Homo sapiens: one gene and its partners. The protein of the gene in region 4 interacts with the protein of the main gene of each other region in a pairwise test. Each region holds a gene or a part of one and is shown on either strand. Other genes may lie near its edges. The genes, in order: BANP, TRAPPC6A, SCAMP1 and ZMIZ2.

Region 1 (4,411 bases), on a different chromosome or scaffold from region 4:
GAACTCCTCCCAGAGAAAGCCCAGAGAGGCCCCGCTCTAAGTCAGCGAACACGGCTTCACGTAGGCCCTTCCCAAGCCCCTAACGCAACTGCCACAACGGTGTAGGTGAAGCAGTCCAGGCCCGGCTGGTCACCAGGGATTCAACTGCCTCTGGCACTTCTATTTGCAGATATTATCTCTGCCTTAAAAAAATCTGTAAATAGTAGGGCCTGCCCCTGTGGCTGCAACTTTCTCTAAGGACCCCAGGACTGTGCCTTCTGGAGCTGGCAGAACTCTGTGGTTTATGAGAACAAGAAGTTCCACAGCTGTGTCCTAAACCAGGTTTCCCCTCGGCAGTGCCTACAACACGGAAACAGAACTGACTGTCCCGGGGTGCCCACACCTACTGTCTGCACAGTGGAGAGGGCAGCAGCGTGGCCTGAAGGCCAGCGAGCCCAACCCCCCAGGGACAGGCACTCTCTGGCGAACCGTCTCGCAGGAGGAAAAGCGTAAGGCTGCTGTGGTCATAAATACATTTTATTTCATTAGAAATGCATAATTACAGTGTTTAAGAGCATTTCCCCTAGAAAAGTAGGTCAGCAATACCCCATCGGAACCGAGAGCTGGCTTTGCAAACACCTGCCTCATGACACTGGACAGAGCACACAGCAAAGGGCTCCCGTCTCATGACACTGGACAGAGCACACAGCAAAGGGCTCCCGTCTCATGACACTGGACAGAGCACACAGCAAAGGGCTCCCGTCTCATGACACTGGACAGAGCACACAGCAAAGGGCTCCTGCTACTCCCCTGGGATTTTTTTTTTCAAATTTTCTTTTTTGTTATAAACACCATAGCAAATTAAAAAAAGCTGTTTAAACAGAAAAATATCATAGTTCTTGATTTCCCGCGCATATGCGACGCTCTCCGCACCGTGCCTCCCCTCGTGCTCCGACACCAACAGCAGGACTCAAACGAAAGGGGTCTCCGGCTGGGGGCGGCGGCGGCTGCTCTTTCAGTTGATAGGATGCTGTTCCCCGCGGAGGCAGCGGCCTTCAGACGCACTTCAGCAGAACACGTGCAGCCGCTGCCTGTGCCGAGGCCGTGAGAGCAGGGCGCGTGGGGGCCGGGCCGTAGGCGGAGCCGGCGAGGGGCTCCTGGTGCCATGGGCACCGCTCACTGAATCTGGATGGCCCCGTGCTCGAGCTGCATCTCCGGCTGTAGCGTGGGCTGCAGGGCTTCGGCCGTCTGCAAAAGGGAGAAAGGAGGGACTTTCTAGAAAAATACCCAGCACTGCATGGCCAGGGGGTGTCATGAACAGCCAGTGACTTTAAGGCAGAATGAGAAACACGCACACAGGAGCGCGAAGGAGCCCTGACGGCCCCAAGGCTCACCCGACTTGGTACACAACGCCTGGCTCCCAGCGGAACGACGCGCCCACGACCCTGGCGCCCAGGGAGGCTCCGGCACACCCAGGCCCCGGCCCGCCCCCGACATGGACTCCGTCACCGGGGCCGGCGCAGCAGCTGCTCCTGCCTCTCCACCCCCAACCCGCTGCCTCACTGGGAAGTAACCTGGAAGTGGAGAACATCCTGGCCCTCCCGAAGATATTTCCCTGAAGCTTCAGGTACCATTTTGCCTTCCTATAAACACTGTCCCAATGTTTCAACAAAGGATTTTCGGGGCAGCTATGATTCTTCCCTCAAAGATACAGGTTCTGGTCAACGAGTTACAGATATTAAAAGGACTTCAAGTACGAAATCACAGCTTTATCTTAAAATGAGTTAAAGGAGGTCGGGCGCAGTGGCTCATGCCTATAATCCCAGGGCTTTGGGAGGCTGAGGCAGGTGAATCACTTGAGGTCAGGAGTTCAAGCCTAGGCTGGCCAAAATGGTGAAACCTCGTCTCTACAATAAATACAAAAATTAGCCGGTGTGGCGGTGCACACCTGTAGTCCCAGCTGCTAGGGAAGCTGAGGTAGGAGAATCACTTGAACCCAAGAGGCAGAGGTTGCAGTGAGTCGAGATTGCACCAATGCACTCCAGCCTGGGCAACAGAGCCAGACTCCATCTCAAAAAAAAAAAAAAAAAAGTAAAGGAAAAACATACAGTCTTGGAATAAGTCACTCATCCTCCAGCTCAGCCACACGGAACACGCCCCAGGTGGAGGAGCCCACTCTAGGGCTGCCGTGCACACTCCCAGAAGCTTCAGCTGGAAGGCACAGGAACCACAAAGGAAGAGCCAGGAGAAGCCACGAGCCCACGGCCGAGCCCACGGGAGGAAGAGGCCTGGCAACTTCTACTCTAGTTAAGGTCCTGCTTCATTTTATTTTTTAGAGATAGGGTCTTGCTCTGTTGCCCAGGTTGGAGTGCAGTAGTGCAAGCACACCTCACGGCCGCCTCGACCTCATGGGCCCAAGTGATCCTCCCACCTCAGCCTCCCAAGTAGCTGGGACCACCAGTGCACACCACCACGCCCGGCTAAATTTTTTTGAGACGGAGTCTCACTCTGTCACCTAGGCTGGAGCACAGTGGCGCAATCTCGACTCATTGCAACCTCCGCCTCCCGGGTTCAAGCAGTTCTCCTGCCTCAGCCTCCCGAGCAGCTGGGATTACAGGCACCTGCCACCATGCCTGGCTAATTTTTGTATTTTTAGTAGAGATGGGGTTTCACCAGGTTGAGCAGGCTGGTCTCGAACTCCTGACCTCAGGTGATTGGCCTGCCTCAGCCTCCCAAAATGCTGGGATTACAGGCGTGAGCTACCGTGCCCGGCCCCAGCTAATTTTTTTACGTTTTGTAGAGATGGGGGTCTCGCTACGTTGCCCAGGCTGGTCTTGAAGTCCTGGGCTCAAGCAACGCCCCTGCCTCGGCCTCACAAAGCACTGGGATTACAGGCATGAAACACTGCACCTGGTCCAGGTTGTGCTTTTTCAAGACAAATGTCAAATGACACTCGATATACTGTTCCCTGGATGGAGGAGGGGCCTTCCAGGGTAGGATGAGGGGTCAGTATGAGGACTGTCTCCTGCGAGCCCGGCCACAGCTGGGAAGGCCTAACGGGAAGGGGTGAACCTCAGCTGGAATGGAGGAGCCACACCAGGGCCCTGGGGTGGGTGGCTGAAGGCCATGGGAGGTTGGGGTAGGGGGGCCACCGCCTGGGATGCAAAGCCCCTTCCCCCAGACAGCTGGAAAGGCAGCTGGGGACTTGGGTGGGTGGGGACAGTGGGGCACAGGTCTGGGCTGGCTGGGACTCACTTGCCCTCCAAGGACAGTGGCCAGACCTGTGTTCTGGGCAGAGGCTGGTGGAGGTGCTGCCTCTGCTACAGATGGTTCAGGGAGCCTGTGACACCCACAGGCCACCGCGCATTAAGACAAGTGTCTTCCCCTGCAAATGGCACCCCCCTACCCTCCCAACCCACTGCTCCAGGGAACAGGCCCCACTCTCCACTTTGAGGATTGGCCACCCCCACAGGCCAGCTACCTGCCTTCCCTCCTAAGGGAACCCATCTTCTCAGAGCCAGGCCCTCACAGCTGAGCCACAGGTTTTCCTAGAACGAGCTCAAGCGCGTGACCCTGCTCTGACCCATGCAAGATGCAAGACCATTCCCAAGCATGACTGGGGTGGGGGCTTCATGTGGATAAGGAGGCTCAACCAGAAACCTGTCTCTGTTGGGTGCAGTCACGCCTGCAGAGTCACCATGAAGGCCTTCGGTCACTTCCCAGTGGGGCAGAGCTAGCCTGAGGACAAGCTGAGATGGTAAGGCAGAGAGCTGGGCCCTTGGTGACAAGCTAACGCACCCTGCAGTTGTCTGGCCTCAGATGGGCAAACCCGCTCACCACCAAGTCCAACCACGCTGGGGTTTTCTGCAGGGAAAGCGGCCCCTTAAGCACGCCGTCTTCCTTGGCTGTTACGATGGATCCTAATTAAATCATTCACCTGGGGCCTGCCAGGAGGGCATGGTAACAGAGAGAGCTTACAGGAAGCTAGGGGTGTAAACACCAACCATGGGACACAGGTTTGTTCAATTCTGAAATCGGAAAATGACCAGAAACTTATAATGCAGCAGGACGCCCTCAGGCATGGCCCCCACATCTAGTTTCCTGGGCGCGGACCTCACTGCCCTCCTGCAGCGCTCCTATCTGGAACGGCACGGGGGGCTGCCACGCGTCCTCGGCAGGGGCTGAGGCAGCCACGCCTGACTGTTCTTCACGGACAGGCCAAGGTTCACACCACATAAAATAAGCGCTGCCGAACGAGTTTGCCTTCACCATCCCACCCACCCGCTCCTCACTGCCTGTGCGTTCTGCGCCCATGGCCCTCACCGTGCTTCCAGCGCATCTCCAGTGAGGTCGGCGACAATGTGGAACCAAACACCACGCAGAGTACAGGGCGCGCCTCTGCGGGGGCCACCGCGCCCATGGGCAGAGTACA
Region 2 (7,408 bases), on a different chromosome or scaffold from region 4:
CACTCCAGCCTGGGGGACAGACCGAGACTCTGTCTCAAAAAAAAAAAAAAAAATTAGCCGGGTGTGGTGTCGGGCACCTGTGGTTCCAGCTACTCGGGAGGCTGAGGCAGGAGAATGGCATGAACCCGGGAGGCGGAGCTTGCAGTGAGCCGAGATCGCGCCACTGCACTCCAGCCTGGGCGACAGAGCGAGACTCCGTCTCAAAAAAAAAAAAAAAATCAAATACATCCTTATTGAGTATGATGAAGCCTACCAAGAAAAAAGTGCGAGAGGGAGACCAGGAGAATGTATAAAGGAGATCCAAATTTGACTGGGGGCTCAGGGAAGGCATCCCTGAGGAAGGGATTGTTACGCTAAGATCTGAAGGATTAATAGTTGTTAGCATGGTGAAGATGTGACAGGTGGAATGGGCTGGGAGAAGGGAGCAGGCTCATTTCACAGGAGAGCGGAAAGCACTGGACCAGGGCAGAGGAGGGGCCACGTGAGAAAGGTATTTAGACTGACTGGGCAGAGCCTGGGGGAGGGCTGCAGGTGAGGGAGACAAGGCAGGTGTTGGGACTCCAGGGTTTCTCGTTTGAAAGCCAGGAAGGATATGGAGTGTTGGGACATTATTACCCACCCCCAGGCTGATGCATACTCCCTGGGCCATGCTGTATCTTCCTCATAGCAGTTACACAATGTACCAGACACTTTACTCATTTACTTGTCTGTCTCCTCCAATGATGACAAAGCTCCAAGAGTCCAAAAATTTTTGATGGTTCACTGAGTAATCCCCATGTTTTTTTAGAGACAGGGTCTCACTCTATCACCCAGGCTGGAGTGCAGTGGCATGATCATAGCTCACTGCAGCCTTGAACTCCTGGGCCCAGGCAATCCTCCCACCTCAGCCTCCCGAGTTCTTGGTAGTATAGGCATGTGTCATCACGCCCAGCTAATTTTAAAAATTTCTTGGCCAGGCACAGTGGCTCACACCTGTAATCCCAGCACTTTGGAAGCCCGAGGCGGGCAGATCACGAGGTCAGATCAAAACCATCCTGGCTAACATGGTGAAACCCCATCTCTACTAAAAATACAAAAAAAAAAAACAAAATTAGCCGGGTGTGGTGGCAGGCACCTGTAGTCCCAACTACTCAGGAGGCTGCGGCGGGAGAATTGCGTGAACCCAGGAGGCGGAGCTTGCAGTGAGCCAAGATTGCGCCACTGCACTCCAGCCTGGGCGACAGAGCAAGACTCTGTCTCAAAAATAAATAAATAAATAAAAATAAAAATTTCTTTTAGAGGTGAGGTCTTGCTATGTTGCCCAGGCTAGTCTTGAACGGTGGGCCTCAAGTGATCCTCCCACCTCTGCTTCCTGAGTACCTGGGATTACAGGTGCAAGTCGCCACATCTGGCTAAATGCATTTTTGATTTATGATGTTTTAAACTTATGACAGGTTTGTATCTGTATATCGAGATGGTAACAAGCAACATCCTCCCTGGGGCTTCTAACCCTGGAAGGAAACCAGAGCCAATAAAAATGTCTTACATGGCCAGGTGCGGTGGCTCACGCCTGTAATCCCAGCACTTTGGGAGGCCGAGGCGGGTGGATCACAAGGTCAGGAGTTCGACACCAGCCTGGCCAAAATGGTGAAACCCCGTATCTACTAAAAAAAAAAAAAAATTGGCCGGGTGCAGTGGCTCACGCCTGTAATCCTAGCACTTTGGGAGGCCAAGATGGGCAGATCACGAGGTCAGAAGATGGAGACCATCCTGGCTAACAGTGAAAACCCGTCTCTACTAAAAAAAATAATAATAATACAAAAAATTAGCCAGGTGTGGTGGCGCCAGCAGCGCTTGTGGTCCCAGCTACTTGGGAGGCTGAGAAGTGGGATGATCGCTTGAGCCCAGGAGGTCGAGGCAGCAGTGAGCCATGACTGCATCACTGCACTCCAGCCAGCCTGGGCGACCGAGCAGGATGCGCGTGCGCGCACACACACACACACACACACACACACAGTCCCGGGCCAGTCACGGTAGTTCACGCCTGTAATCCTAGCACTTTGGGAGGCCCAGGCGGGAGAATCACTTGAGCCTAGGGGTTCAAGACCAGCCTAGGCAACATGGCAAAACCCCATTATCTCTTTTTTTTTTTTCCTGAGACAAGTCTCGCTCTGTCGCCTAGGCTGGAGTGCAATGGCACAATCTTGGCTCACTGCAACCTCCGCCTCCCAGGTTCAAGCCATTCTCCTGTCTCAGCCTCCCGAGTAGCTGGGATTACAGGTACCCGCCATCATGCTCGGCTAATTTTTGTAGACACGGGGTTTCACCATGGCCAGGCTGGTCTTGAACTCCTGACCTCAGGTGATCCGACGGCCTCGGCCTCCCAAAGTGCTGGGAGCTACAGCGCCCAGCCGGCATATTTCATTTTATTATTTGACTCCCCTAGTGAAATGTAAGCTTCACAAGGAAGGGATTCTGTCTTAGAACGGTGCCTGGAATACAACAGACGCTCAATAAGTGGGTGTCGAATAAATAAATGTCCCACGCTGAGGCTTAGGTACGTTATGATACTCATTTTACAAAAGAGAAAACTAGGACACACAAAGATTAAGTCATTGGGTCGCACACCTAGTAAGTGGGGGAGGCGAGTCCTCAGCACACGCCCAATAACAGCATTATTATGATTACTAGCCGCTTACTCAGGCCTTGAGCTAAGTGCTTTACCCTGAATCATCGCGCTCAATTTAGCAATAACCCCGAGCCGGCACCGTCGCGAACGCCACTTTCCAAAGGAGGAAGCCAGGGCCAGACGTTGCCCTGCAAGGCCGGGGCTGGGCCGGGTTCGAACCCGGACGCCTGACGCGCCCTCCGCTCTCCCAGAGGCGTTACCTTGGTGGCCCCCGCTTCCTCCCCACGGAGCCCGGCGCTCACCCCCGGGCCGGGGTCGGGGTCGTGAGCCCACAGCTCAGCCACCATCTCCGTGTGAAGAAACTCAAACAACACAGTATCCGCCATGCCCCCTCCTCGCACGCCTAAAGATGCGCCCAGCGCTTCCAGCTCTCATTGGCCAGGCTTGGTAAGCCACGCCTCTTGCGTCATGGCGCGAGCCCTCCTACTCCGGCTTCCATTGGTGTTTTAGACTAGCCCCGCCTCCCCGCCCCGGACTCAGGTGGTGTGCGCGTGAGCCTGGGACACTAGGGGGCGGGCCTACGCCTTCTCTGGCCACATGTGGCAACATCTTCTGCTCTTACTGCCGTCCCTTCCCTATTTCCGGGTTCTCGAGCATTCCTATTGGCCAAATTACTGGTTACACGTGACATACTCGGCTTTTAAAATCCCTATTGGTCCACTCCAGACTTTCCTCGTCGCACAACCTGGAAGAGCCGGCCCAGCTGTTTCTCTATTGGCGGTTCCTCCATTCATGTGACTCTTCTGCACGCTCACTCAAAGCTGATGCTGAGAACTTGCTTCCTGATTGGTAGCCGGGCGAATCCACGTGACTTGGCCGCTAATGCCCGCCCAACCCGCTCCCCTATTGGTTGAAATCACAGCCCTTCAGCTGCCACGGTGAGAACGCAGCACTCGGGTTAGGAAGCGGATCTCGCAAGCTCCGAGCGTCAGCTGCCGGGTACGGTCTTTGGCGTTAGCGCTTCTCCCATCCCATGAGTGCCCCCAGCAGAGTCCAGTCGGACTGTCATCCTTTCTGCGACTCTGGCGCTGGTCCCGAGCAGCTCACGGGCCCGTGTGCTTCCGGGTCTGAGATTGGCATGGTGGACCAGGTGGAGGGTGTGGCCTCTACTAGGAGGCAAATTCGTAAAGACCTCGGCTTGGGACTCCGGGAACTCGGGCCCCAGATCCTTGTTCGAGCTGGTCTTCAGTTTCCCCATCTGTACGCTGAAGAGCCTGGGGTCCAGTAACCCCCATCATCACCCAGTTTACAGAAGAGGAAACTGAGGCCCAGACGGGGAGCAGCTGACACCAAGTCGTTAAGAGAATCAGCGAAGGGGCTGGGAATCCAGGACCTGCGCCTTTTACCCACCGCGGCGCCGGTCTCACGTGCAGTCCCTTCGCTCTTCTCCCCTAGTTCGGTGCCATGGCGTCCCAGGGTCGTCGGCGGAGGCCCCTGCGGAGGCCGGAGACGGTGGTGCCGGGGGAGGCGACCGAGACGGATTCCGAGCGCTCTGCGTCCTCGTCGGAGGAGGAGGAGCTGTACCTGGGTCCTTCGGGCCCGACGCGCGGCCGCCCCACGGGGCTGCGGGTGGCTGGGGAAGCCGCGGAGACCGACTCGGAGCCGGAGCCGGAGCCGGAACCGACGGCCGCGCCGAGGGACCTGCCTCCACTCGTGGTGCAGCGGGAATCGGCGGAGGAGGCCTGGGGCACGGAGGAGGCCCCGGCGCCCGCCCCCGCGCGCTCGCTCCTGCAACTTCGGCTGGCGGAGAGCCAGGCGCGGCTGGACCACGACGTGGCGGCCGCCGTGAGCGGTGTCTACCGCCGTGCAGGCCGCGACGTGGCCGCCCTGGCTAGTAGGCTGGCGGCAGCCCAGGCGGCGGGGCTGGCGGCGGCCCACAGCGTGCGCCTGGCGCGCGGGGACCTTTGTGCGCTGGCCGAGCGTCTGGACATCGTGGCTGGCTGCCGCCTGCTGCCGGACATCCGCGGCGTGCCAGGGACCGAGCCTGAGAAAGACCCGGGGCCGCGGGCCTAGCCATGATTCTACTTCCCAACCTGACTGCAATTTGGGGGTAGGCCTTGCTGCCTCTGGGACCTGACTCTGTCTCCTGTGTCTCTTATCACCCCCCACCCCCGCTCCCATCTTGGTGTCACCCATGGGGGCTAATCCGGTCCCCTTGGATAATGCTTTATATTGGATATAGTTCAACCCCTACTGCGGAGACCAGGGCCCCACTATCCTTAGATCTGGTTCCTCTCCCGATCCTGACCCTGCCGCCTGGTTCTGAGCCTTCCCCTGGGGCTTGGCTCCAGCCTTTGTTACATAGTTGCTCCTTAATCTGTTTCCACCCTGGGGGCTCACCAATTTTTTTTTTTTTTTTTTTTTTTTGGAGACAGGGTGTTTATCTGTCACCCAGGCTAGAGTGCAGTGGCGGGATTACTGCTCACTGCAACCTCGACCTCCTGGGCTCAAGTGATCCTCCCAGCTCAGCCTTCAAGAGTAGCTGGGACTGCAGACCTGCACCACCACGTCCAGCTGCCCGGTTAATTTTTTTCTGTCGGTTTGAAGAGGGGAGAAGGTCTCACTATGTTGCCCAGGCTTGTCTCAAACTCCCGGGCTCAAGCAATCCTCCCACTGTGGCGTCCCAAAGTGCTGGGGTTACAGGTGTGAGCCACCACACACTGGGCTCTGCTCTGCCTTTCTGAGTTTGGTTTCTGCTTATGGTGGGGAGCTTGTTCCCGTTCTTCCCACAAGAACCCAGGATGTGGCACAGCTTCCCTGCCGTCTTCCTTCACTCAGTTGGCTACGCCTCCCATCCTAGCTCCACTTCCAGAACTGCCTTCACCCTAGGCTGGGTCCTTGTTTTGTTTTTAGAGACAGGGTCTCACTGTGTCTCCCAGGCTGGAGTACAGTGGCGTGATCTCGGCTCACTGCCACCTCCACCTCCCGAGTTCAAGCGATTCTCCTGCCTCAGCCTCCCGAGTAGCTAGGATTACAGGCATGCACCACCACGCCTGGCTACTTTTTATATTTTTAGTAGAGATGAGGTTTCACCTTGTTGGCCAGGCTGGTCTCGAACTCCTGGCCTCAGGTGATCCACCCGCCTCACCTCCTAAAATGCTGGGATTACAGGCGTGGGCCACTGCGCCTAGCCAGCTGGGTCCTTGTTCTGCTGCCCAAGCTTGGCCCTGGTTCCGTGTGCTGGTTCTACTTTTTGTTCTCCCATCTGCCTCCTGCCTCCTCCCCTTTGAGCTTAGCCCCGCCCTCTCAGCCTGATTTCTGTTTCCCAAGTCCAGCAGTGTCGTGGGATAGGTTTTGCTTTCTTTTACTGTCTCCATCCTACTTACACCTCCCTGATCCTGGGGTCTGGGGACTCCCCATGGTTTCCTTCCTTCTGCAGGCCCAAAATGATGGCCCCTCTTAACCCAAGGCAGGGGATCTTCCTCCCAACTCCCTGGACCAAGGTGGCATTTCCTGCACACCCCTCCAGGCCAAGATGATGCTCGCTCTCAACTCTGTAGGCCAAGGTGGCGTCTCCTCTTGACTCTCCAGACCTAAAGTGACACCCTTCAGGCACTTCGGGCCCAATTCAGCCCAGTCCTGGTGCTTTCAGCGCCAGATGACAGCACTTTGCAGATAAGAACGATATGATGTGTGGATTTCACTACATTTGGCTCCTGGATGCTATAAAAGGACTTGGATTTCTGACTTGGCTCAGGGACTGGGGTTAGCAGTCTCTTTCTGCTCCTTTTCACCTGTGTTTTCTTCCGATCCCAGCTCTGGTCCCTCAGCCGCATTCATATTTACTCTCCTCTCCCAGCCTGATATCCCTGTCCCTCATCTCAACCCGAAGCCAAGATCTGAGCCCCCAAGATGGAGAATGGGGAGGAGCTTTTTATGGCGGACTGATTAAAACTCTTAAGCATTTACCCTTATGGTTAGTTCCTTTTGTTTCCCTATCTAAGCTAAGGGTGAGTTGGTTGATTTCTCTGAGAATGGGGGTCCCGAGACCTCCATGCCTGGCTTATGGAAGGTGAAGCTGTAGTTGGGAAATCAGGGGCCCTAGATTTTTGCCCTGGTTCTGTATTTACTCGTATTTTATTAATTCAACACACACGTTTTGGGTACCTGACCTGTGCTGCGGCTAGGGGTATAGCACCCAGTCCCTGCCCTCACAGAGGTCGCAGTCCAGTGGGAGAAACAGTAATAAGATGTTCTCATAGATAGTTCTAGTAATCATAATTTATAGTTTAATTTTTAAAAATAGAGATGATAGCCTGGCCAACATGGTGAAACCCTGTAGTTATTAAAAATACAAAAATTTTGGGCGATGTATCACGCCTGTAATCCTAGCACTTTGGGAGGCCGAGGCACGTGCTAGTAATTCCAGCTACTCAGGGAGCTGGGGCATGAGAATCGCTTGAACCCTGGAGGCAGAGGTTGAAGTGACCCAAGATCGTGCCACTGCACTCCAGCCCGAGCGACAGAGCAGGACTCTGTCTCAAAAATAAATAGGCCAGGCGCAGTTACGCATGTCTTTAATCCCAGCACTTTGGGAGATCGAGGTAGGCAGATCACCTGAGGTCAGGAGTTCTAGACCAGCCTGGCCAACATGGTGAAACTCTATCTCCACTAAAAATACATTAGCCAGGCGTGGTGGCACATGCCTGTAATCCCAGCTACTCGGGAGGCTGAGGCAGGAGAATCGCTTGAGCCCAGGAGGTGGAGGTTACAGTGAGCTGAGATCATGCCACTGCACTC
Region 3 (7,882 bases), on a different chromosome or scaffold from region 4:
GAAAAAGGCAATGGAAAACAAATAGGATTTAATGAAAAAGAAATTAGCATAGTTACCAAATGCGAAATATCATATACTTGAAAATAAGAGCTTTATCTTCAAATACTGCAAATAAAAACAGATTTGAAAAATGGGTCGGGCCCAGTGGTTCACGCCTGTAATCCCAGCACTTTGGGAGGCCAAGGCGGGTAGATCACGAGGTCAGGAGATCGAGACCATCCTGGCTAACACGGTGAAACCCCGTCTCTACTAAAAATACAAAAAATCAGCCGGTGGTGGCGGGCGCCTGTAGTCCCAGCTACTTGGGAGTCTGAGGCAGGAGAATGGTGTGAACCCAGGAGGCAGCGCTTGCAGTGAGCAGAGATCGCGCCACTGCACTCCAACCTGGGCGACAGAGGGAGACTCCGTCTCAAAAAAAAAAAGAAAGAAAGAAAGAAAGAAAAACGATCTGCTTGAACGCAGTGGCTCCCGCCCGTAATCCCAGCACTTTGGGAGACTGAGGCAGGTGGATCACGAGGTCAGGAGTTCAAGACCAGCCTGGCCAATACAATGAAACCCTGTCTCTACTAAAAATACAAAGAATTAGCCGGGTGTGGTGGCGGGCACCTGTAATACCAGCTACTAGGGAGGTTGAGGCAGGAGAATCACTTGAACACGGGAGGCAGAGGTTGTGGTGAGTTGAGATCACGCCATTGCACTCCAGCCGGGGCAACAGTGCAAGACTCCGTCTCAAAAAAAAAAAAAAAGTAAAAAAAGAAAAATGATCATAAAGTAACTCAAATGATTCTAGAAACATTTCAGATTTAAGTAGAGTATCAGAAATGTTATTTCAAAAATCACTTTTACATAAATATAAGCAGAAGTAAAAAGACAAAATATAGATATAAAACTATACTTTGTGAGGAGGAGGGGCAGGTGAACATAAATGGAAAAATAAAGGGTCAGATACACTGACAGTGCTATAACAGTCACCAAAAACAGAGAAAGATCATAAGCAGAAATATGTGTACAACCAAGTCTACTTTAGACCTAAATGATCTGTCCCTGATGCATTTTACAAACTTGAATAATCATTGTCCTGGATACATCCACTTATAAAAGAACAAAAAAGATTTATAACGTTATGCCACAATGAATATTTAAAACAACTCCTGGGTTTAGAATTACTACAGCAACTTTATGAATGTCAGAAGAGGAAAAGTGTCATGGCAATATCAGATGTCACAAAAGGACAGTCTGGGCTAAGATGAAGACAATGTTTTGCCCTAACAAGAGAGCCAGTTAATATGAAATGAACCATGAAATGGAATGACCAAGTAGAAAATACACTGCCAAATCGTCAGATGCTGAATAAACAGCGTCAGTGAATTATCTGAATTAGGAAAGGCTAAAAGGTTCTTGATGTTTTATCTTCAAAATATTTTAAAATAACACCCATTTAACAATTTATGAACGGTCTCTTTAGAAAGTCTACCATTTAAGAACTACCTGATTTTCCACAACATGGAAGCAAGTCCAATACTAATTGAAACAAAACTGCCAGGAAAAAAAAAAAAGTCTTAAAATGCAACCATGTCACTGAAAGGTACAGGCCAGTTGTACTGAATTTTAAGTGACATTAGGGACAATGAAACAGTGACTGAGTCTAATTCTACACTGCTACAAAGTGAGTCGAGTTGTCAATAATAATCAGGGTCATTTCATTAAAATAATCCTCCTTGGAATTATCAGGCATTTAATAATCAGAGCAGAAATAGTTTTCCTCTTCCAGGATTCTTAATGAAAGATAAAACCAGGAGTAAAAAGATGTAAACTCAACAAGCCAGAAGTGACACTTGTGTGACCACAAATTAGAGTTCCTGTTTTATTCTGTGTGACTGCAAATTAAAGTTACTACTGCACATGGCCGGGGGGATTGAGAAACAACTTCAACCAACAGTTGGAAACAAATTACACGTGCTAACAGTTACACTCATTAGGAAATTCAGAATACTTTCAAAGAGAGAGTTATTTAGATGTTGCATTCATTTAAACGCAGACGATGAATATCTCAGCCGCCTTCCTTTGCAGGATTCTGTGCCAAGCCCTTCCGAAGCCGGGGTTGATAAGGTCGACTCCAAGAAGAAAAGCAGCTCAAGTAGGAAATGGTATCCTCACATAGCCCAGAGAACCGGTGACGCACTAGGAGCTTGGAAAATATCCCATCGTTTACCTTGCTAGAAGCAGCTGGGTAGGGAAGAGGTCGTCCACGTGCACTATTGTTTTCCAGATATGTTTATTTTTAAGTTTTGCTTTGGTATCAATAACCTCAACCTCAACCTAACAGAAAGAGGGGGGATGGCAGCGCCACTGGTGGTATTTGGGTGCAACACAAGTTTAAAAAATAAAAACATAACCTTTTTTTTTTTAATTGCAGCATACTCGGTGCCCTCACCTCTCTCCTCCTCCACACCTCTGCCATCACCCCACGCAGCTCTCCGCCGCCGCCACCTCGGGTCCCCATGACAACCCCACCCCAGGGCGGGCCCCCCTCCGCCGACTCCCGGCCCTGCCAGCCACACTTGCTTGGCAAGGGGCGACTCTACCTGCCCTCGGCTTTCTCTCCTGAGAGGCGGGCCAGGACCCCTCCGGGCGCGCGGGCCCAGTCCCGGCTGCAGACACGACCCTCACCAGTCGGGGACGTGTGGAAGGGCGACCGGGCACGAGCTGAGGAGGTTCCACCCCCAAGCCCCAAAACCCAAAGGAGTGACACGGGGCCGGGGCGCGACCCCAAATGGAGGACGGCGGCCCCGCGCCCCTCTCTGGGCTGCTAAGGGGAGCCGAGGGGCAGACGCAGTGGGCGCGAAGGAACTCGTCCGTTTTCACAAACAACGACGCGTCGCGGCGGCAGGAGATGCTGGGGCCGAAGCTCACCTTGAAGGGATTGTTGAGATCCGGGTCGGCAAACGGGTTACTGTCGAAATCCGACATCTCTCTGGCTCTCGGCGTCACCCACCCGACCCAGGCGCAGAGAGAGAGACGAGGCGAGGCCGCCGCCCCCCTGCGCGCTCACGTCGCCGCCGCCGAGCAGATCCGGGTGCAGCTCGCGGGCCACCCAGCCGGCCGCGCCACTGAGCATGCCCGGTGCGGCGGGCTCCTGGCCGCGGCGCAGCTCGCGTTCGCCATCCCGTTCCTCCGGGCCCGGATCCCACGCTCCGGGCTTTAGCTGCGACCGAGTAGGCAGTCGGGGCGAAGGAAACGGGAACTGAAAGCGATGAAAAGCGTTCCACACGCCACGAGCCCGCGGGATCCTCGGAGAGTATGGAACCCTTCCCCTCCGCTCTCAGCCGGAGGCCAGCTGCGTCCAGCCGGGCTCGGTCTTCTGAACACCGATTTCAAATCAGGTCCTCGGGGCCCAGCGTCACTTAGGGAAGTGGTGGCATTTTGTGGTAAGGACGCACACTTGTCAGGTTGGGGGAGGCAGCCTGAGTCGTGGGCCGCGCACCCCGGGAGCAGTGCCGTTAGACCGTGGGACGCGGGCACTGGAGAGGCTACTGCACCGCCCTCCGCAAATTACCTCCCCGGGGCGGGGGCGCGGCCGCTGCTAAGGATTTTTGCATACCCCTGACCCCACCTGAGAATCCCGGCCTCCCATCTTCCGGTCTCTCTGACTCTAGGTTGCTGCTAAATCACGGAGAGCAGCCTTGGCGCTGCCGGTCCCAACTTGATCCAAGGAGCCTTGAGAAGGAGATGAGATTCAGTACCAGGGGCCGGCCGTGGCTCCCATCCTCCGGAATCTGCAAAATGGCTACTTCTTCAGAAATAATGGGGAGAGGGATGGCAAGAGGCCAGAGATCAAGGCCCTCGAGTATTAACTTGAGCATTTGGGCACAAAATAGACACTTTTGGATTTTCCCGTCTTTTCCAACACCAAGGATGAGATTATCAAAAGATGTGTTAAATTAATTTGTACCGGCCGGGCGCGGTGGCTTACGCCTGTAATCCCAACACTTTGGGAGGCCGAGGCGGGCGAATCACAAGGTCATGAGTTCGAAACCAGCCTGGCCAATATGGTGAAACCCCCGTCTCTACTAAAAATACAGAAATTAGCCGGGAGTGGTGGCGTACGCCTGTAGTCCCAGCTACTCTGGAGGCTAAGGCAGGAGAATCGCTTGAATCCGGGAGGTGGAGGTCGCAGTGAGCCGAGACCGGGCCACTGCACTCCAGCCTGGGAGACAGAGCGAGACTCTGTCTCAAGAAAAAAAAAAAATCAATTTGTACCATTCCTTGCCCCACCCTGCCGAACTTATTGAAAGAGCATCGCTTTCCTCACTTTTCTCCTCTAACAGAAAAGCACTTAGATGAAGCTACAGGGAGCCAGAATTCTTTTGACTTGGTGGGTACCGGAGGATTGGAAGAATCTAGATTGAGTATTCCTTGGCCTTTGGGGAGCTTGCTCTATGCAAAGTCACCCAGGAAATGATACTCCCCCCACTGTGAAACACTAGCTAGAGATGATAGACAAAAAGCACATTTGTTGTAATCTCCCTTTGACGGGATTCAGGTTGGGATAGATGTCGAAGCAGCTGCTTCTAGGTAGTCAACGAAGATGTCAACTAGTAAATGACAACAGACAAGGATGAGCACAGCAGAGCTGTACGATTCTAGATATCAAAAAGAGCAAGCAGTCTGTTGTACTCACCATCGCATCCTCAGCAGCTGCCCAGTGCCCGGTTTTAACTTAGTGCTCAGTGTATGTGTCAGGTTTGAATCCCAATTCTGATACTACCTGTGCTACTCTCTTCACCTCTCTGAGTCTGTAAAGGATTATTTAAGAATTAAATGAAACAACATACAGAAAAGTGTCCTGCATGTATATTTAGTGCCTAACAAATATTGGTTGAACGTCGAAAGTGGCAAGGAGGCTCAGTATGTTCTTATACGCTTTGCCTCCCTTCTCCTGAGCAAGCATGTCCTTGCCCAGCTCATCTGCTTCTCTCACCACTTTTGCCCTCACTCCCTCCACCTGTCCTCCAAATGACTCAAAATAATCTGCACTATTTATTATGCATCTACTATGTTCCAAGACAATGAGGGTCAGCTGAGCCCGCATTGCAGGATGGAAATTTCCAACTATGTTCTGTTTACAGCTAATGATATTTGCACCTAATGCAAAGGTTTACAGACTTTACTGTTATAGAATCATTTGGAATACCTGTTGAAGATGCAGACACCCACCTTACCATACCTCCTATTGCTAAGATTACGCTTGAAAGGATCTGAGGTAGGGGCTCTGGATCTGCATTTTTTATTTTTTACATCTCTATACATTATTTTACATAAATGTATAAATGGAGTCATGACATACATATTGAATTTTTCACTTACAAAAATTTTTATTCCGTGTATTCCCTCTTCTCTTCCCCTACATTAACAACCTAGTACATTTCTTTAAATATTCTTGTAATAGTGTATATCTGCACTTACATAAAATAACATGTAATTGTATAAAAACAATACATATTCATGCAGATATGCATACACTCTAATACTGAGCTTTGGCATTGTCTTGAAAAAGTTAGATCATATGTATATTTTTCTGCAGCTGTTTTTCTCAATACGTATGGCAGAATTTCTCAGCAAGATGTGCATTGTCAGAGAGACAGTCTTAAGGTTTCTTCCCCTAGTATGCCACATAAATATTATCACTTTTTATGTGTAGCATGCCTATAGAGTGAAAAGGGAAGCATGGCCTAATGGAAACCATATATCTGATTCATTATTCTTAACAACTGCAAAAATCAGCATATGTAAAGGATCTCAGGTGATTTTTTTTTTTTTTTTTTTTGAGACCGAGTCTTACTCTGTCACCCAGGCTGGAGTGCAGTGGCACAATCGTGGCTCACTACAACCTCCACCTCCCTTGTTTAAGCAATTCTCCTGCCTCAGCCTCCCGAGTAGCTGGGATTACAGGCATGCACCACCACACCCGGCTAATTTTTGTATTTTTAGTAGAGATAGGGTTTCACTTTGTTTGCCAGGCTGGTCTCGAACTCCTGACCTCAAATGATCCAGGCCACCTCTGCCTCCCAAAGTGCTGGGATTACAGGCATGAGCCACCATGCTTGGCCAACCTGAGATGACTTTGGTGGTGGCTGATCACACTTTTGGGAACACTGATATGAGGACATGCAGACATATGGTCCATGGGTGAGGGTCTTAATCTGTTTGTGTTGCTATAAAGGAATACGGGAGGCTGGATAATGTATGAAGAAAAGAGGATTATTTGACTCATGGTTCTGCAGGCTGTCAGCTTCAGATGAGGGCCTTATGCTGCTTCCACTCATGCAGAAGGCAAAGGGGAGACTTCGTGCAGAGATCACATGGCTACAGTGCAAGATGGGGCATCAGGGGAGAGAAAGGGAGAAGCTGACTCTCGGTTCTTTTGAACAACCTGTTCTCAAGGATGAGAACTCACTCTCAGGAGAATAGCACCAAGCCATTTGTGAGGAATTCATCCATATGGCCCAAACACCTCCCACCAGGCCCCAACTCCAGCACTGGGACTCATATTTCAACATGACACTTTGCAGGTCCAAAGCCATACCCAAACCATAGCAGGGAGCTTATTAATTCATTAGCCTCCATGAAATTTAGAATTATAGAATGTGCGAGCTGAGAAGGAACCTCAGCCTCTCTCATGATTGAAGAAACTGGAGTTTGGACAGGTTAAGTAATTTGTCTCAGACACCAAGGAAGTGAATGGGGAAACAGGGAACAGAACTCAGGTCTCTTGACTAATGTTTTAGACATTAAATAAATAGGTTATTAAATGAATAGAATTATTCTATATGAATAATTTCATATAGAAGGAAGAAATGCTATGTGCAAGGTAGAGAGAAATTATACAAGAAGCCTCATTTGGTGCAGGAGTTCATTTTACGGAAGGTACCTCCTAAATTTGGTAGAACAAAGACTCAAAACCAGTCTATGCCCTCTCTCCTGCAAACCAACCGTTTGATCTTGAACATATCAACTCACCTTTCTAACCAGAGTTTCTACTCTAGTACATCATTCAAGTATTTCTTGAGCAACTAAAACAGTGATGTTGTGGATAAAGCAGTAAACCAGGTATAAAGCGTAAGGCCTGCTCCAGAAAACTTCCTAAAAGGCCTAGAACATGGCTAAAGGATATCTCAGATCCTTTGGACAGTTCTAACGTTCTATTAATCTGGGACAGTGGCTCACTCCTCCCTAACCCTGTTTCTTTTCCCCTCAGAGTGTGCCTCCCATCATCATCATGCTGCTTCTCCTCAGACTGACACTTTTAATTGGTGAACCTATTGAGCAGGGTCTAGAGTCTGAATTCCTTGTTTTCTAAACTGCCTAGCTTATAGCTGGGGAATGCTAGGAAAATGCCAAGTTAGATATTTACGTTTCTTGCCTCAAAAGGTTCACTGGATTCTGGGTTCACTGATGGATTAGAACTGAAATCCATCATCTCTTACAGTGGGTCTAGTCTCCAGATTTGCTGCTGTGTCTGCTGATACCCTCGACGCCCCAGCACCAGCCTATCTGGCTCCCTATTCTGCCACTGGCTACATTTTCAGGCAATAACAGAGGAGGTGCAGGCATTGTGTGGTAGGCCAAATAATCCTCCCCTCCCCCAAAGATGTCCATGCTATAATCCCTAGAATCTGTAAATATGTTACCTTACATGGCAAAAGAGACTTTGCAGGTGTAATTAAGGTTAAGAACCTTGAGAGGAGGGGATTATCCTGGATTATTCAAGTAGGCCCAATGTAATCACGAGTCCTTGAAAGTGGAAGAGGAAAGCAGAAGAGTTGCTGACTTTGATGATTGAGGAAGGGGTTCTTAAACTAGGGCATGTGAGTGGCTTCTG
Region 4 (7,028 bases):
GCAACCTCTGCCTGCTGGGTTCAAGCAATTCTCCTGCCTCAGCCTCCCAAGTAGCTGGGACTGCAGGCGCCCGCCACCACACCCGGCTAATGCTTTTTGTATTTTTATTAGAGATGGGGTTTCACCATGCTGGCCAGGCTGGTCTTCAACTCCTGACCTCGTGATCCACCCGCCTTGGCCTCCCAAAGTGCTGAGATTACAGGCGTGAGCCACCGCGCCCGGCCTAATTTTTTCTATTATTAGTAGACATGCGGTTTCACCACATTGGCCAGGCTGGTCTTGAACTCCTGATCTCAAGTGATCCACCTGCCTCAGCCTCCCAAAGTGTTGGGATTACAGGCATGAGACAGCATGCCCGGCTTTTGCTTTTTTTTTTTTTTTTTGAAACAGGGTCTCACTCCTGTTGCCCAGCCTGAAGTGCAGGGGAGCGATCACAGCTAACTGCACCCTCAACTTTCTGGGTTCAGGCGATCCTCCCACCTCTGCCTCCCAAGTAGCTATGACTACAGCCACATGCCACCACACCAGGCTAATTTTTGTAGAGACACGGTTTCGCCATGTTGCCCAGGCTGGTCTCAAACTCCTGAGCTCAAGGGATCCACCCTCCTTGGTTTCCCAAAGTGCAGGGACTACAGGCGTGAGCCACCATGCCCAGCCAGAAGCCTGCTCTTTACCACAGCTCTAAAGAGTGCCTGGGTGAGGGAGTTGGTACCCAAGGCCCCAAACTAGGTGACCTGGACACTCACCTCAGAGTAGGTTCTCTTGACCCCCTGTCGGGGCAGTGGCTGGGCCTGGGGAGGCCCAGGATACCCATGTTGGGGCAGACGCTGCCCTGCATACAAGGGTGTCATTCCTGCTGCCCGGGTGGGGTTCATAGCCAAGGGGGAGAGGCCAGAGGGGCCCATTACCCCTCCTATGCCAGTAGGGTTCATGCCAGCGGGGACACTAGGCCCCCGGGGACCTCCATGCTGCAGAAACTGGCTGTTAAAAGACTGTCCGGCCCCCATCTAGGAAGAGAAAAAAGAAGAATGGTCCAGGTCCCACCCACAAAGGGCTCCAAAAGATAGGCATAAAACCCGCCCACCCACCCATGTGGGCACCATACCCTTTCACAGGACACCCCAGAAACCTCTCCCCTCAGACCCTCACTCCTTCCCACACATCTCTCTTTTACTGGCTTCATGAGCCCTGGCATATTCCATGCTTGTCCCTGGAGCCCACTGTCTGGCTGAGTACCTCCTCCCAGGCCCTCAGGCTGGCTGCCATGTGGGAGGAGCTGCTGAGGGGGCTCACCGCTCCATACTGGCTCAGCTCCTGGCTCTGCTTCTCCTGGAGAGCAGCCACGGTGGCTGTGGCTGTGGCGGTGGCAGTGGCTGCCGCAGCAGCCACAGCTGCAGCAGCTGCCGCTTGCGTGAAGTCAGTGGAGGGTCTTGCAGCATGTGAGGGGAGGCCCAGGCCCCCCGGGCCGCCTGCATACCTGCAGGAGACACAGGATTGCCACGCTCTCTGCGTGGGCTCATGAGGGCCAGGACTGTGCTCACCCCAGAGGCATGCAGCACCCAGGGGGAGCCCATTCTTTCTAGACCCTCCACTACAGCTGTCAGGAAGCAGAGAGGGAACGTCCAGCTGATCAGCGCCACAGTTCTGAGGTGCCTGCCAGATTGATGGCTCCTAGCATACCTGCCAGGTGAGGGAACTTGCTTACCCGGTGGTGAAGCCGGGGGCCCCAGGGTAGCCCCCGCGGCTGTACACGCCTTGCTGCACGTAGCCCTTGTTGGCGCCGCCTTCAGCAAACGCCTGCTGTCCCAGGCACTGTGGGGAGGTCAAGGCGGAGCTGCCCCCTGCCACACCAGGCATCATGGAGCTGCCAGAGGGACTCCCTGCAGGGCCCATGGGGTTCCCCAAAACCTATGAGGAAGCAGGAATCACCAAAGGGAACCAGCCAAACAACGTGCTTCATGCAGCAGCTCCAAAGTGCTAGAAACCAACAGGCCTGGCAAGTGGGTTGGGGGAGAGGTGGGGGGGACAGGGTATAGCACGGGAAGCAGGGAAAGCAGCTGTCCACAGGGAGGTTGGGGCATTTTGTGAAGGCTAGGTGAAGACAGGAGAAGAAAATCCCACAGCAGGTGTGGAAAGAGAACCAGTGTCCAAAGACTTAGGGGACTCAGGAGGCCCCATCCTCATATGTCATGCCTCAGCCTCTCTGTCCTCACCTCTCAGCCTCTTCGTCTCTCAGAGCTCTGAGGAGGCACTAAGCACTGCCAAGTGCTGGGAGGCTCTGTCTGCTCGGGGGTGGGGCACCAGTGGGTGCTTACCTGGCTCTGTGTCGCGTTGCCAACTCCCCACACAGTAGTGACCACAGACAGCGATCCAGCCGGCTGAGTGGCGCTTTGTTGCCAAGGCACAGACTCATATGCGAATGAACCATCACTGCAGGGAAAGAGGCTGCTGAGGCCTGGGTCAGGAAGCCACTGGTGTCCAAGAGTCTAGGATCTTCCAGAAATGCCACCCCCAACCCCAGGGCCTGAGGGGTGGGCAGAGGAGCCCACACTCACCCGTGTGGCGCAGGGGGCAGGGCAGGTTTCATGGGGTTCATGGAGTTCATTGGCAATGGAGCAGCCTACAGGCCGGGTCTGACAGTTTTTATCTGGAACTCAGCTGCTCTGGCTGCCCGACAGGAAGGAAGGGATGTTAGCTGCGATGCAGCCAGGAGACCCTTTCAGCAGGGTGGAGGGACCCCGGTGCCAGCAGGCCCCACCTCTTTCTCAATAAGGGACCCCTGGGCTCTGATGGCAGGCAAGGCAGTGGAGGGGCCTAGTACTGACCCACCCCACTCACTCTGGTGAGGATCTGCCCCCACAAATACAGCCTGGAGGCCAGCATGAACCCTTTCTGACCAGGCCCTGCCACCCAGAGTCCCTGGATCAGCCCTAGAGATGGACTTCCCGATTCCAAATACTTTCCCCACTCTCCCGCCCACACCGAGGCCTGGCTATCCTTATAAAGCCAGGGACAATCCTAGCTACCCCGTGGAAACTGGGGTTTAGAGAGGAGCCAGTAGCCAGTAACCCCACAGAAGGCCCTGGGGTGAAGGACAGAGGGCAGTGGAGGTGAGGGGACTCCCTGCTAAAGGTCTTGTCTACCCTGAGTAGCCCAGGTAGGGGCATAGGCGGTTCTGGAGGCCAGGGGCTGAGAAAGCCGAGGAGGAGAGTGCAGGGGTGCGGTGATCACAGGAGTGCAGTGGTCAACCAACAACTCTCCATCCTGGCCTTGGGGAGGGACATGCAGGATACCTCCTGAAATGGGGTGTGGGGCCAGTAACCTGGGCTCTGGCTAGCAGCCCCTCCCAACAAGAAGGCCCTCTTTAGGGTAGTAGAAGGGCTCCAGGCCAGGGCACCTCAGAACTGACCCAGATTCCACCAAGTGGGGGCTGCCCGAGGCTGATATGGTCCTAGGGGCCAGGCAGGCAGACCCACTGGCCCATCCATGACACCCCCAGGAGAGGGCAGGGACACACAGCACAATAGATGGAGGGTGGGCACCCACAGACCTGGCAGGGACTGTGACTTGGCCAGTGTTTCTAAGAAAGGGGCTGGGGAGACATTGAAGTGACTCTGCAAGATGGGGCTGAGTGGATACCAGTGACCTGGTGCTCAGGACAGGGCAGCAGAGGGGGTGTGTCAGGGAGGACGCATGCAGGACCACAGTGCTGGCACCATGGGACTTACATGTGCCACGCTAAGTTTGCTCTCCCCATTTAGTAAATAAGCCACGGAAGTGACCACACCTTCAGGCTGCTTCTGAGTGCCACGCCTTCCGACACTGCCACAAGCAAGCCCCTTACCAAAGCAGGCCCAGACATGCCCTGGAGCCCTGCCCCTGAGTGTCCCTGAAGGGCCCTCACTGGCACTACCCTGGGTTCTGACACTCCCAGGACCACCTGACATGTCCACCTCTGCCTGCCTAGGCTATCCACAGAGGAACACTGGCTGCAGCACAGGAGAGGCCGCTTCAGCTGTTTCTCAGGAGTCCCCAGGCATGCTCGCCTTGGATACTACTCCCTTTTAGGGCCTACAAGGCTGCCACACACACAGACATGCCACCTGAGGCGTGCTGACCACTGGTGCCATCCTGCCATCGCAGCACTCACATGGCCTCTCCCTGCCCCAGGAGAGGGTGGCCCCGCATTCATCTAGGCTGCCATTTCTTGTGCTGACCGAGGGCCTCACCAATGGAGGTAGGAACAGCCTCACCCCTCAAAATATAGACCTGGAGATTCTGAGGGCGAGCTGTGTGCCCAGGGCCCCAGAGCAGGTGAGAAGTAGAGCTGAGCTCTGCCTGGGGAGTCTAAGCATGTGGCCTTTCACTGGATCTTCCCATCACCGAGCACTGGGACTGGGGGGTACCAATTAGGGAAGAGGGAGAGGGCAGTGTTCTGGACTTCCTCACACCCTCAGGGGAGGCAAGACTTGATTCCCAGCCCATAGGCTCCTCCCCTTGCTCCCCCAGACCAAGTCCTGCCCAGGAAGCAGGGGTGAAGAAAACCAGGGGCTGATGGCTCCAGAAGGCTCCAGGCACCTGGACTCTAGGCAAGAACAGGCCTGGGAGCTGAGATGGCCCAGCCAGGCAAGGTAGGGGTGGCAATCCCAGTCCCATAGCCTGACTCAGGAATAGTGATGTTGGGGGACAGAGGAACCTGCCAACAGCCAGAAACTCCTCCCCAGAACTGCTGGGTGGGGCCTTGAGCAGCCATACACAGATTTTAGGACTTAGAATATAGATATGGTAATCAAAACTGTGTGGTACCAACATGGGAACAGAACCATGGGCCAACAGGCGAGACCAGAGAATCTGAAATTGATTTGCACAAATAGGCCCAAACAATGTCTGACAAAGGTGCGAGAGCAATTCAAAGGAGGAAGGACAGCCTTTCCAACCAATGGTGCTGGGACAATGGAGCAACTGGGCATCAAAACAACAAACAAAAAACACCTAAACTTCACACCTTATACAGAAAGTAACTCAAAATGGTTTATAGATTTAACTGTAAAACATAAATCTATAAAATATTCAGGAAAATATATAGGAGAAAATCTTTGTGATCTAGGCCAAAGAGCTCTTAGACCTGATACCAAAGGCATGATCCATAAAAGAAAAAAACTGATAAACTGGACTTCATCAAAATTAAAATTTTTCCTTCGGGAAAGGCCCTGCTAAGAGGATGAAAAGATAAGTTACAGGCCAGGAGAAATATTTGCAAGCTGCATATCCAACAAAGGACTAGTATCTAGAACATATAAAGAATTCTCAGCCAGGCACAGTGGCTCACACTTATAATCCCAGCACTTTGGGAGGCCGAGGCAGGAGGACTGCTTGAGCCCAGGAGTTCAAGATCAGTCTGGGCAACAGAGTGAGACCCCCGACTCCTCAAGAAATTTAAAAATTAGCTGGGCGTGGTGGCATGCACCTGTGGTCCCAGCTTTTCAGGAGGCTGCAGTGGAGGGATCACTTGACCCCAGAAGGTGGAGGCTGGGGTGAGACATGATCATGCCACTGTACTCTAGCCTGGATGACAGAGTGAACCATGATTTAAAAAACAAAACAAAACAAAAAAAGAATTCTCAAAACTAAAAAAAAAAAAAATTAAAATTAAAAACTCCAATTAGAAAATAAGCAAAAAACATAAAGAGACACTTTGCCAAAGAGAATATACAGATGGCAAATAAGCATAAGAAAAGATGCTCAGCATCACTAGTCAGTGGGGAAATGCAAATTAAAACCACAGTGAGATATCACTATACATCCATCAGAATGGCTAAAATAAAAAATAGTGACATCACTAAATGCTGGCAAGGAGAAACTGGATCTCTCACACATTACTAGTGGGAATGTAAAATGTACAGCCACTCTGGGAAACAGTCTGGCCGTATCATATGGAACTAAGCAAGCAGCTACCCTACTATGACCCAGCAACTGCACTTGTACGCATTTATCTCAGAGAAATGAAAACTTATGTTCACATAAAAACCTGTACACAAATGTTTATAACTGCTTTATTTGCAAGAGCTATGGAATGGAAACAGCCCAGATGTCCTTCAATGGATGAAGAGTTAAATCAACGGTGGTACATCCATAGCCCGGATGCAATATAAAGGAATGAACTACTGATATATGCAACAACCTGGATGAATCTCCAGAGAATTAATGCTCGGTGGAAAAAGCCAATCCCAAGAGGCTACACGGTGTACGATTCCTTTATTTAGCATTCTTGACACACCAAAATTAGGGAAATGGAGAACAGATTGGTGATTGCCAGGGGTTAAATGTGGGGGTAAAGAGAAAGGTACTAATCTCTTCTCCATTTCTGTAATTTTGGCAGGAGGAAGGTGGGCGTGAATATAAGAAGGCAACAGGCTGGGCACGGTGGCTCACGCCTGTAATCCCAGCACTTTGGGAGGCTGAAGTGGGCAGATCATTTGAGGTCAGGAGTTCGAGACCAGCCTGGCCAACATGGTGAAACCCCAACTCTACTAAAAACATAAGAATTAGCTGGGCAAAAACTAACCGGGCGTAGTGGTGGGCGCCTGTAATCCCAGCTACTCAGGAGGCTGAGGCAGGAGAATCATTTGAACCCAGGAGGTGGAGGTTGCAGTGAGCCGATCGCACCATTGCACTCCAGCCTGGGCAGCAAGAGTGAAACTCCATCTCAAAAAAAAAAAATAGAAGGCAACAGGCTGTAACCTCTTTACTGTATCAGTGTAGTGTCCTGGTGCAATGTTGTACTAGTTTTCCAAGATGTTACCATTGGGGCAAACTGGGTAAAGGACAGAATAAATCTCTCTGTGTCATTTCTTATAATGCACATGAATCTTTAATTTTTTTTTTTTCTTTTTGAGATGGAATCTTGCTCTTTCACCGAGGCTGGAGTGCAGTGGCACGATCTAGGCTCACTGCAACCTCCACCTCCCAGGTTCAAGCGATTCTCCTGCCTCAGCCTCCTGAGTAACTGGACTACAGGTGTACACCAC

The links.
Region 1: the proteins of ZMIZ2 (region 4) and BANP interact in binary tests that used the Homo sapiens proteins (3 or more experiments, as listed by UniProt).
Region 2: the proteins of ZMIZ2 (region 4) and TRAPPC6A interact in binary tests that used the Homo sapiens proteins (3 or more experiments, as listed by UniProt).
Region 3: the proteins of ZMIZ2 (region 4) and SCAMP1 interact in binary tests that used the Homo sapiens proteins (3 or more experiments, as listed by UniProt).

The regions. Positions count from the first base shown.
Region 1 is NC_000016.10:88,073,406-88,077,816, reverse strand, and holds the end of BANP (protein BANP), read right to left. Parts: intron 1,228-4,411; coding exon 1,156-1,227; 3' UTR 501-1,155; downstream 1-500. UniProt on the Homo sapiens protein: Controls V(D)J recombination during T-cell development by repressing T-cell receptor (TCR) beta enhancer function. Binds to scaffold/matrix attachment region beta (S/MARbeta), an ATC-rich DNA sequence located upstream of the TCR beta enhancer.
Region 2 is NC_000019.10:45,175,225-45,182,632, forward strand, and holds the start of TRAPPC6A (trafficking protein particle complex subunit 6A), read right to left. Parts: upstream 3,014-7,408; 5' UTR 2,995-3,013; coding exon 2,911-2,994; coding exon of another isoform or gene 2,869-2,910; intron 1-2,868. Other genes in the region: BLOC1S3 (biogenesis of lysosome-related organelles complex 1 subunit 3), read left to right, coding at 4,073-4,681. UniProt on the Homo sapiens protein: May play a role in vesicular transport during the biogenesis of melanosomes.
Region 3 is NC_000005.10:78,355,760-78,363,641, reverse strand, and holds the start of SCAMP1 (secretory carrier-associated membrane protein 1), read right to left. Parts: upstream 3,026-7,882; 5' UTR 2,971-3,025; coding exon 2,914-2,970; intron 1-2,913. UniProt on the Homo sapiens protein: Functions in post-Golgi recycling pathways. Acts as a recycling carrier to the cell surface.
Region 4 is NC_000007.14:44,751,827-44,758,854, reverse strand, and holds part of ZMIZ2 (zinc finger MIZ domain-containing protein 2), read right to left. Parts: intron 2,668-7,028; 5' UTR 2,606-2,667; coding exon 2,556-2,605; intron 2,431-2,555; coding exon 2,316-2,430; intron 1,909-2,315; coding exon 1,706-1,908; intron 1,478-1,705; coding exon 1,294-1,477; intron 1,008-1,293; coding exon 747-1,007; intron 1-746. UniProt on the Homo sapiens protein: Increases ligand-dependent transcriptional activity of AR and other nuclear hormone receptors.